2 linked regions of the Homo sapiens genome follow. The protein of the gene in region 2 interacts with the protein of the main gene of each other region in a biochemical or structural test. Each region holds a gene or a part of one and is shown on either strand. Other genes may lie near its edges.

Region 1 (7,032 bases), on a different chromosome or scaffold from region 2:
CTCATTTTCTAGGAATTGTGGGGATCTGAGATTAGGAAAATATCCCTTCTCATTGAATAAACCTTGACATTTGTGGAGCATTCAGAACTCTATGCCTTCTTTTGATTTCCCAAATTCATGTTTGCATTTGACATAGGAGCTCTAAGGCATGTGGACAAGTGTCGTATTGTATTTGACAGATGAGGAAACTAAGGCCAAAGGTTTGGCCAAAGTCACCTGGTGGGTTAGCAGGGGACCCCTCCATGCAGCTTTCCGTTGTGCCATACCTACTAGTCCCCACTAAGGTCACATGAGCCTTACTTGTTAGCAGGCCACCAGGTCACCCTCCAATGCCACCTGCCCTCTGGGGTACTTTATTCCATAAGGTGCCCACATCAGGATCTTCCCTCAAGCTGGACAGGACAACTTCAGGCACACCACAGTGTTCCCAGAGCAGACCCTCAATAAGAATCCCTGCCCTTTGGTACAGTGGCTCACGCCTGTAATTCCAGCACTTTGGGAGGCCAGGGAGGATAGTTCGCTTGAGGCCAGGAGTTCGAGACCAGCCTGGCCAACACCGTGACATCCCGTGTCTACTAAAAATATAAAAAATTGGCCAGGCGTGGTGTTGCATGCCTGTGGTCCCAGCTACTTGGGAGGCTGAGGCACGAGAATTGCTTGAACTCAGGAGGTAGAGGTTGCAGTGAGCCGAAATGGTGCCACTGCATTCTAGCCTAGGTAACAGACTGAGACCCTGTCTCAAAAAAAAAAAAAAAAAAAAAAAGACAGAAAAAAAGAAGAAAGAATCCCTGCCCCTGCCCTTTGGGAAGGGGAGGGCTATTTGTGTGCTCTCAGGACCATGTCTCAAACATCAGCACTGGCAGTGAGGAGCTTTCACCCTTCTACAGAGCAGTAAGGGACTGGAAAGAACAGACACAGCCCAGGCCCTCATCCCTCCCATTCCTGTATCCATGCACAAGTACCACATGGGTTTTTAGGAGTTTGGACCACAATCAAGGATAAGAAGAAAGCATCCCTGACCTTAAAGAGCTAGGGAGACATAGGAGCAAATCCTTTCAATATGGTGTGATAAATGACAGGGTAACAGTGTGATCACAGAGGAGGGAGAAAACAGGGAAAATGAAGGGACAGTCATGTTTCGGGGGCAACTGGGAAAGAAGAATAGGAGAAGCTCCTGAAATGGGCCTCAGAGGATGCACAGAAATTTGCAAAGTGGGAACAGAGAGCCCAGGAGGGATTGCAGTGTTGGGCAGAGTCTCAGGTCTGGAGTGAGAAAGCTTGAGTTCCAGTCCCAGCTCTGCCACTCACTAGTTGTGTGATCCTGGGCAGGTCACTTTACCTCTGTGAATCTTAGTTTCTGTACTTGTAAAACAGGAGTTGTCCTGACACCACCTTTAAAGGTGGTTGGGGACAGTCAGGCTAGACAATACTTTTGAAAGTGGTTTTTAAACTGTAAACAAAAAGAATGTCAGTTCTTAGTTGCTGGGGATATCTATATTTACTACTCCTCTGGGGAAGGGATGAAGATATCCCGAGGGAAGATAGACCCATGTGCTGGGGTCAAACTCATGGCCTCTGTCCTGGGAGGGCCTGGCTGGGAACAGGGAGATTCCTTGTTTCCCTAAGCCTGGAACCCATTTCTAGGACACAGAGGGCCCATTGGCACCCGGCTTACCTGCAGCTTTGATGGAGGACTTACGAGCTGTGTGCCGTCTGAGATCCACAGCCTGCTGTACCTGGAAGGCCCTCAGGTCCTCTTCGTCCAGGGCAATGTCCCCAAGAAAGGCAGCTAAAGAGAAAAGAAGAAGCCAGGGCTGAGTTAATCCTCCTACCCAGCCCTAGGTGCACCGTGCTTCTAGCCCCAACCCTGTGGGCACCAGCCCCCAACCTCCACAGCGACTGTGATCCTCAAATGCCATCTGAACGAGAAGGAGAAGGGCAGTTAGGGATCAGCTTATAGAATTTCTTGGGAAGCTCATGCTTACTTTTCAGTTAAAATCCCAGTAAAGCTGATGCTCAGCCCCTACCAGTCTGTTAGCTCATCATTCTTTGGGGAGTGTGGGGCAGATAGGGTCTCACCACTGTGCCCAGCTAATTATTTAAAATTAGCAGGGTCTTGCTATGTTGCCCAGGCTGGTCTCAAAATCCTGGCTTCAAGTGATCCTCCAGCCTCCTCAGCCTCTCCAGTGGCTGGGAATACAGGTGTGAGCCACAGAGCCATCATTCTTCAGCAAATACTTAGTTAACATACTACTGTGGTCCAGACAATACCCTAGTTATTAGCAAGACAGAAGAGGCCCCTGCTTCGGTGGAGCTAACCTTCCATAATATGCAAGTAAATAAATACTGACCTAGGGTCTTCCAGATAGCAATGGGAGCTATGAAGAAAATAAAACAGGGTGTGCTGAGCATGTGGTGGTCACTCAGCAAATGCTGTTTCAATTTAACTAAGGGGGTGTCTATGAGATAAAATAAGCCAGGTGCAGTGGCTCACACCTGTAATCCCAACACTTTGGGAGGTCGAGGTGGGTGGATCACTTAAGCTCAGGAGTTCAAGATCAGCCTGGGCAACATGGTGAAACCCCGTCTCTATAAAAAATACAAAAATTAGCCAGACATGGTGATGCATGCCTGTAGTTCCAGCTACTCACTCAGGAGGCTGAGGCAGGTGGATCAATTGAACCCAGGAGGTCAAGGCTGCAGTGAGCTGAGATGATGCCACTGCAATCCAGCCTGGGCAACAGAGTGAGACCCTGTCTCAAAAAAAAAAAAAAAAAAAAAAAGAGGAAATAAAATTGTACCATTTTTCATTAGAACAGATAAGCATCTTTGGGAAACGAAGATACCTTCTGGGAGCTTCCCAGCTAGGAGGAAAAAGTTTAACAGTTCTCAAGTAATTCCTATTCCAAGTCTTAGGCTGCCCAAGCAGAAAGGCCAGAGGGGAAGAGAGCCTCCCTAAAGGGCCATTCCGATTCCAGTATCTGGAGCTGAGGAGGGATGTTTCCAGAGACCCGGCTGAACTGTCTGTCTTCCTTTTGAGAAGTCTGGAGAAAAGGAAGCAGAGGCCATAGAACTGGCCGCTTTGTAAGGCGCTCAGATGGGAGCTGCATGCTGAGCTGGGCTGGGCTGGGGGAAGTGGGAGGCTGGGCTACAGGTGGGACCCACAGCAGCTTCCCTGCAGCTCCACCCACAGCAACATCTGCTTCTCATCCAGGCAGAGTGCTATACAGGCCTGGCGGTCGCGTTACACAAATTGTTTTAACCTTGAAGACTTCTACACAGGTTTCTCCTCCCCAGTTGGCCTCACTGGTGAACACACACACACACTGACTTCATCACATACAGAATCAGACACCCAAGGTTAGTGTTCCTACAGACATATGGTGGCGTCCACACCCTTGCCATCCAGTGCAGAGCCATCAAAGCCAGGGACACACATCCTTGCGCATGAAAGCAGCAGCCAGCACTGCACTTTCAGGCGGGAGGCACTCCGGGATGTTCGAATGAATGAATTGCCACGCTGATATTCTTCTGGCTTGCAAATACATGCCCAGAGACACACCCTCACCTAGACAGGATCAACAGAATGTGGGAGTGACTGTGGCAGTCATCGAGGCCAAACTTCCATTTTATAGATGAGGAAACTGAGGTCCCAAAAGCAACAACTTAACTGAACCTACACTGCTAGTCACTGGAAAACTGGACGTATAACTCAGGCCTCCCCATTCCCAGTGCAGCAACCACTGCACTCTCTAGAACCCCTACTGTAAATACATATATACAAAAATAGATACTCAGACGGACACATCCACAACAAAATACACACACAGTCACACACGGTTTTTAAAAAACACACATGCACAAGCTCCAACATACACAAACCAGCTGCAAGCTCTGGACCCATTAAGCAAATAATAGTCGTGATAATGACACCTTATGTAAATGTTGAAATTTTTGTGGTGCTTTCCAATTGGCAAAGTGCTTTCCCATTAATTAATTTAATCCTGGCCTGCCCACAACATGCCCAGTAAGCCACACTCCACACCATGCTCTTGCAGAGCATTAGAAACTCTCAGAGAGAGATAACCTAAGTGGCTAGGTTTAGGTTCCAGCCCACCTCCCTGACTTTAGACATCAGAACACTTGAGCCTATGAAGGGCGATAACTCACTCAAGGTCACCAGCCAGTAAGTGACCCCAAATCTCTTCCAACCCATGAGAAAGCTACTCTTACTTGAATCGCCATCCTCGGCAGGTGGCCTTGGCTCAGCAACTGATGGGACGGCAACAGAAGATGCTTCCCAGGTGACATGCAAGAGTGGCCTTAACAAGGACATGGGATGGGAGGTACACTCCAAGGAAGAAGCAGTGGGTTCATACTCACCAAAGTTCACGTAGATGTGCATCTGCCACACGAATGCCTCCACACTTAGGCTTGTGTTATACCTTTCTTTCTTTTTTTTTTTGAAATGGAGTCTCACTCTGTCACCCAGGCTGGAGTGCAGTGGTGCAATCTCAGCTCACTGCAACCTCTGCCTCCTGGGTTCAAGCAATTCTCCTGTCTCAGCCTCGCCCAGCTAATTTTTGTATTTTTTTTTTAGTAGAGACGAGGTTTCACCTTGTTGATCAGGCTGTTCTTGAACTCCTGACCACAGGTGATCCTCCTGCCTTGGCCTCCCAAAGTGCTGGGATTACAGGCATAAGCTACTGTGCCCGTACACACATATTATACCTTTCACAGGCATTGTACCTGCAGGCTCCCACACCCAAACCCACAGGCATCACCGCATACAGGTGTGGCTGGACATTTAGACTCACCTTTGGACATAGAGCAAAGGGCAAGGTCTTTGGAGTCAGACAGACCTGTCTTGGAATCCAGGTTGGCTACTATTAGCTGACAAGTCATGTAAACTCTTCTAAGCCTCAGTGTTCTCCTACATAACAGAATCTGTCTCCTAGGATTACTGCATGAAATAAGACATATACACGAACCCCCAGCACAGAGCATGCAACACGGTACGCACCCACCAGCCACTTTAATATTATCCCAACACAACCCGTAAGCTCAAAGTCAGCTCTAGACCTCCTCAGGGAACGCTGGCTCACCCACACTCTCTGCCCCCACTCCTCCTTGAGTGAAACCCTGGTGCAGAGGCCACAGAACTGTGCTGGCCTGCGGGTCCAGGGCCAGTGTAGAACCAGGGCAGAGCAAGTGCAAGGCAGGGCAGGGCATGGCCCTGGCTGCTGAGCTCCTGGAGTGAGGATGTCATGGCTGAAGAATGCGTGGGAACCAAGTGGGGGTGGGGAGAGAGGAGATGGGCAGGAGAGCCTTAGGGGCAGGAGCTGGGCCTTGGGGCTCTGTGCTTTTGGGCTGCCCTCTGGGGAAGCGAGGGAATCTGGATGCTAAGGAGTCTAGGAGGTCTCTCCTTACTCAGAGGAAGCCCTGGGGTCACGGTCAGGGTAGTAGTTATTTTCAACACAAGATAAAAATTTTTTGTGTTGTTTTCCAGCTGTAAACCTGCCAGGAGCACTGTGGCTGAGCCCATCTGTGTGCTTGTGCCTGGGAAGAATCTCACTCTTTCAGGTCAACCTCTGGACTCCACCGTCTCCTCCCCCAGGGCATGGCAAGGCCTCCCCTTCTGGGGAAGTGGGGAGAGGAGGCTGGCTGGTGTAATGAGCCCCAAGGCTATATGTGCAGGACTGATGCATGTCCCACTGCACAAACGCAAGCTTCTAGCTGGGGGATGACACACTCAAACCCCTGCAAACATGTGGATGGACTTCATCACATGTGAACACTTCTGCAGAGGTGCATGTTTGCCTCCATGCCTGCATGTACTCAGGAAGACCGATCACAGGTGAACATGCTTGCCTACAAGGCAGCGACACACCCACGCATATGCACAAACACACACTCAACCACTTCCCCGTGCAGGATCTTGTGTTTTCAAACACACACATAACTGCAGGCATGCACCATGTTTCACAGGCCACACTCCCCAAAGGACAAGGGCGCACTTAGAAATGGACAGGGATGCACTTGTGTGAGACAAAGAGAGCGAGGGAGGGAGAGAGAGAGATTAGCTGACTCCCTTGGATCTCCTTAGGAGGTTCTTAGTGGACTGAGGAGTAGCGCTTCTACTCCCCCGACCGCAATATCTTCTCCCCAGATCTCTGGAGAAACTAGATTTTTTTTTTTTTTTTTTTCACAGAGTCTTGCTTTGTCACCCAGACTAGAGTGCAGCGGCACAATCATAGCTCACTACAGCCTCCAGCTCCTGGACTCAGCCTTGAACTCTCGAGCTCCAACTCCTCCCAGCTAAGCCTCCCAAGTAGCTGGGACTACGGGTGCATGACACCATGCCCAGCTAATTTTTAAATTTTTTTGTAGAGATGGGCATCTTGCTGTGTTGCCCAGGCTAGTCTTAAACTCCTGGCTTCAAGTGATCCTCCCACTTTAGCCTCCCAAAGTGGATTACAGGCATGAGCCACTGCCCCCTGCCTAGACTTCTTAAGAATCCCTTCTTCCTGGGGAACCCCACTGCCCCGCCCTGCCCCATGTAGGGCCCAGGGAGAGTACAAATTTTTTCCTCACCCCTTGCGGCACTGAAATAAGAAGGTGACTCAGGGGCAGGGGCCTGGGTGGGTGGGGTGACTCAGCTGTCTAGAGGGGGAATGTGGTCTGGTGAGAGGAGAGATTACTTCTCGACCTCAGAGGGTGTACCCTAATCCTCTATGGCTCTCTGATGTCCAAACCTTGGCCAGGCGTCCCCCTGGGTGGGATGGGGATGTGGGCTGGTAAGTGCTGCCCCTCCCGCTCCTGCAGACTCTGGGCTGTCAGATGAGGTTGAGGTGGTAGCAGGGGCCTCACTGGCACAGGGTCACTACCCAGCTCTGGGTGTGACATGCTTCTAGCCCCACCCCTGTGGGGTCAGGCCCCTGGGCTTCTCTGATTTTGGGATCAACTGTGTCCCAATTCCTGCCTCCAAGGTCTCTCCGGGGGGGTGTTGGCTAGTCACCTGGGGCAGCCAAA
Region 2 (4,866 bases):
ACTTCAAGAAATTTTTTATATTTTTCACATATCTTTGTCAGACCAAGTGGCAATATGGGTGCTTTATAAAGTAGTCATCAATATAAACTTTTACAGAATTAGATGGAGTCATTTTATGCTGCAATTCCATGTAAAAATGGCCTTAGCTATAGAAGTTGTATGTGTTTTCATGATTTTCTAGTTAAACATGCTGGTATAGTGCCTGAGGCTCAATGAGACCTCCTGCAGTTTCAGGAATATGCTTTCTTTATGCTATAAGACTGTTTGTTTATAACTGTCAAACCACCAGCAAGTTATCAACTCACATTCAAAACAGGCACCAAGCCACACTTTTGTTAATGTGAATTCTTGAAGAAAACAGAAACTAGACTGTTTTTGTAAGTTTTAAACTCATAAGCCAAAACACAGGGATTTAAAAAAAAAAAAAAAAAAACAATGATTTCTTTCTCAAGAGGTTTTTTTCTTTCCTTGGTGGTGTTCAAGCAAGAACTGTTTTGGAAATGCTGACAGGATCATAGCAAAGGCATCCAGAGGGAAACATATAATATGTTTATTTATCTTAGAAACCACAGAACATTGCAAAAGGCCAAATTGGCCCTGTAAAATGTGTTGCTAACATGTACAGTATGATTGCTTAGTTTGGACAAAGTCAAGTCATTTCTGTGCTGATAAAGAAGGATCACAATCTATATTCCGGCATCTCTAGAATTTATGTCTACAGCTCAACCCTTTCCCTTGAGCTCCAAAATTCTAGATCTAAATCCTCCTTGACACCTCCATATGGAAGTTGAATATGCATCTCAAAAAGAACAGATTCAAAACCAGATATTTGATTCTCAGTTCTTCCAGCTCAACCTCCCAGTCATTACCATCTCAGTAAATGGTGACTTCATCCTTCCAGTGGCCCAGGCCAAAATTCCTGAAGTCATCTCTGTTTCTTTTCTTTCTCTCTCATGCCCCATCTGATCATTCAGCCATCCCTGGCCTCTCTACCATCAAAACAAACCCCATATTTTGATCCCTTCTCAACAATTTTTCTACTATTATCCAGGTCAAAGTCTTCATCATCTCTCACCTGATTATTGCACTAGCATCCGAAATATTCTCTCTTGGCCTATTCCTGTTACCTTACAGTCTATACACGCAAAGGGATCCTCTCAAAGACAGTTGAATCAAGTCACTCCTCTACCGAGACCCCTCTAATAGCTCTCTGTCTTACTCAGAGTAAAAGCTCATCTTTACAATGGCCTAAAAAGTCCTACAGGATGCGATTGTCATTACCTTTCTGACCTTGTATCATATATTATCTCTTCTTGCTCACTTTACTCTGCTCACGTTTGTCCTCTCTGCTCTTGTTGGAACGTGCCATGTATTTTCCAAATTCAGGGCCTCTTTTCTTGGCTTGCTCCCTTCAGTTCTTCATCTCCCTGCTCAAATGTCACTCCTGATAAGTCCTTTTTCCGACCATCCTATATAAAATAGCAAGTCTCACCCCCTTCACATCCCTTATTCCCCAGTTCTGCTTGACATTCCTCCACTTTAATTGTCATGTCCTGGAATGTCTCCTCCTGCTGCAACATCTGCTTCAGAGGGCAAGGCATTATGCACTGCTGTGTCTCTGCCACTAGAACACTGTCAAGCACACAGTAGGTTATTAATAAATATTGGCTGAAAAAATGAAGTAATATGTGCTAGTAGATATATCTGATCAAGACAAAAAAGTTGGATTATTTTGACATTTTTGAGTGTATTTTAAAATTGATTTGTGTTTCTATGCTTGTTCCTGATGGCCTGGAAGCATTCATTCAGCCCTCACAGTCACTGCAGAATGTGTGGCCTGGGAAGAGTCTCCTGATCTCCAATGCCTAAGTGATTGATGGCAGTCATAATACTCAGGAGGCAACTCACCCAGTCCTTTTCTGGTTATCTTATACTGGGGTAGGGTGTGCATATGCCCTTTCTTTTGGCTCAAAATTGTTCAACTTCTTTGAAGGTTGTTTTAGTTTCCTGAATGCGTATGCTTGTATATGGTTTTAATAAGTTTAGTGTTCTCCCTTTCTTGATTTTACTTTGTTTTCCACTATTATACTTTGTGGTGTGAAATTGACAGTCTGTCACAGACCTGTGATTTGAAATAATTGTGACAGATGGTGTGCTTGAATACATAAACAGATCCACTAGAAGGAATGTTTTAGCAATAAGTGTGGAAACTTAAAATTGAGCAGCAAAATCAAGAGTGAAATAACTGCAATGTCGACTCAGCAACCTCGAATGTCTGTGCTGCAGGAGAGTCTGAAGGACAGTGAAGTCTTGTGAAGAGTTGTTGTGTGTGTGAAGGGGCAGTCTTGGACTGGGACTGCCTGGAACATTGGATGAATGAGAAATGACTGTATAAAACATTTTTAGTTTACTTGAGGGATTAGGCAATTCTTCCTTCGTATAAAGATAAGATTATGATATCCTGCAGCTGCCTCTGCAATAAAATTGTGGAATAAACCAGTTTCTTGGAAAAGCATTATGGAGAACGGTAAAGGAATATAAAAAAGATAATAGTGATGATTCAGACAAATGAATGAGCAGAAGAAGAGGAGATCCAAGTTATGCCTAATTTATGTCATGAGAATTACATAGTAACATTTATTGCCAGATCAAAGTCTTTGAAGAAAAATGCTTTAAAAGATCATGAATACTGTGTTCTGGAAAATCTGTGTCACTTGAATAAACTAAGATGGCTGTACTGAAGACAGAAAGTGGTATGGCCTAGGCTAGCATAAATGTACAACAGAGGCCTTTCCAACCAGGAGGGGTCAGAGACAAATTTTTAAGTTTCCAACCTTTTATGTGAAGCACCCATAATCGAACAACAGTTTTAATGAAAACAAAAAAATTAAACATTTAATAAGGAAAAAAGAAAGTGGATATTAATGATTAAGTTGTGTCTCCTCCCAGAAGATATGTTCAATATCAAACCCCCAATACCTGTGAGTCTGACTTCATTTGGAAATAGAGTCTTTGCAGATATAATCAAGTTAAGATGGGTTCATACTAAATTAGGGTGAGCCTTAATCCAATATAACTCATGTTCATAGAAGAAGAAGAGAAAAGACACAAACACATGAGAGAGAAGGCCATGTGAGGGTGAAGATGGAGGCATAAATTAGAGTCACGCTGCCATAAGGCAAAGAACACCTAGATTTAACCAGAAACCTAGGAGGAGCAAGGAAAGGTCCTCTCCTAAAGGCTTTGGAAGGAATCTGACCCTGCTGACACCTTGATTTTGAATTTTTAGCCTCCAGAATTGTGAGAAAGTAAGTTTCTGTTGTTTTAAGCCACCCAGTTTTTGGTACTTTATTATAGCAGCTGTGAGTTCCTTACAGAGGCCAATAAGCAGGAGACAAAAGACAGACATGGTACAATAGGAAACGAGAGGACTCTCTGCTGACTTATTTCTCCAAGTGTGGACCAAGAAGCAGCAGCATTCCTGGAAGTTTGTTTGAAATGCAGAATCTCAGACCTCGATCCAGAACTGACACATAAGAATTTCCCTTGAAATGATTATAGCTCGAACTGTGTGCCTGTAATAACAATGGCAGTAGCAACACCATAGTTGAGCCCTTTCCATTTACTCTACTTTGATCTATAAGTTATATTCTACACTCGCTAACTGAATTCACACACCAATCCATAAGACATGTACAATTAATATTCCCATTTTATGGACAAGGAAATGAGTCACAGAAAGGTTAACTAGCTTCCCTTAGTCATGCAAATAGTAAGTGTCGAAGCCAAAGAAATCAGCTATATTTATCTTTATTTCAAAGGAAATAAAGATACATATATATGTATATATGCAAAAAGATATATATATAAATATATATATATAAAGATATATATGTGTGTATATATATAAAGATATATATGTGTGTGTATATATATAAATATGGGGGGAAGTTGTGTTGACAAGAGTGCTGGAGAATCAGGCCTGTTTCTCATTTTGATACTGAACAAAATTAGAAGTAGCTTGACTACTGGAAAAGTGTGTTGGATCTGCCTTGCAGATAAGTGTCCAAAATGGTCTTCCCCTCTTTAGATTTCTACTTATTTCTCACCACACTTGTCAGTTAAGCAGCAGGATATCTGCAGGCTTTTCCCCATAAGAGAAAGGCTGCAGCATAAAGGGTATATCATTCAAGGCTATAACATGGAGTGTGCATCATTGAAGGCTACAACATGAAGGGTGCGTCACTCAAGGCTACACCATAAAGGGTGAATCATTCAAGGTTACAATAAGAAGGGTGAATCGTTAAAGGCTATAGCATGAAGGGTGCATTATTCATGGTTACAACAGAGAGAAGGATGCATCATTCAAGGTCCAGCTCTGAACAACAACAAAAAAAGTCCATTTATGGACATGCACCTTGAATTCCTGAATGTCTTCCAATAGAAACCACCTATTCAACTGTAGTCATGAGAGGAGGATCTCTTGGGAGATGAAAAAGAGAAGAAAAAGAGAGGTTTCTTCCCTCTTATTAAAAATACTGGAAAATTCAGATTTTATGGTCCTGCAAGAATGTGGAAAGATGGAAAAGAGTAACTTTCCCTAATGTTAATATTACCTCGGGATATGTCAAATGTAAATGAAAATTATTGCTTCTGTTTCAGAAGAAGAAAAATAGTTTGATTAAGCCTCCTTTATGCCAACCTGTCAGAGGTGTGTCCCAGCATACGTCTTGGATTTTGAACTTAGTCCCTGTCTTGAATAGTGCCTCCCCACCAAATCTTGCTCTTGAACTATTATGCATCTATGGAAACCCACCTCAACTGTTATCTCCTCAAGTTTTTCATGTTCCACTGCACTCATTCTGC

Evidence for each region.
Region 1: of the proteins of DCN (region 2) and BMP1, one has a biochemical effect on the other in vitro, tested with the Homo sapiens proteins (one study listed by IntAct).

What each region holds. Positions count from the first base shown.
Region 1 is NC_000008.11:22,168,359-22,175,390, reverse strand, and holds part of BMP1 (bone morphogenetic protein 1 isoform 3 precursor), read right to left. Parts: intron 1,790-7,032; coding exon 1,676-1,789; intron 1-1,675. UniProt on the Homo sapiens protein: Metalloprotease that plays key roles in regulating the formation of the extracellular matrix (ECM) via processing of various precursor proteins into mature functional enzymes or structural proteins.
Region 2 is NC_000012.12:91,139,958-91,144,823, forward strand, and holds the end of DCN (decorin isoform a preproprotein), read right to left. Parts: 3' UTR 527-4,866; downstream 1-526. UniProt on the Homo sapiens protein: May affect the rate of fibrils formation.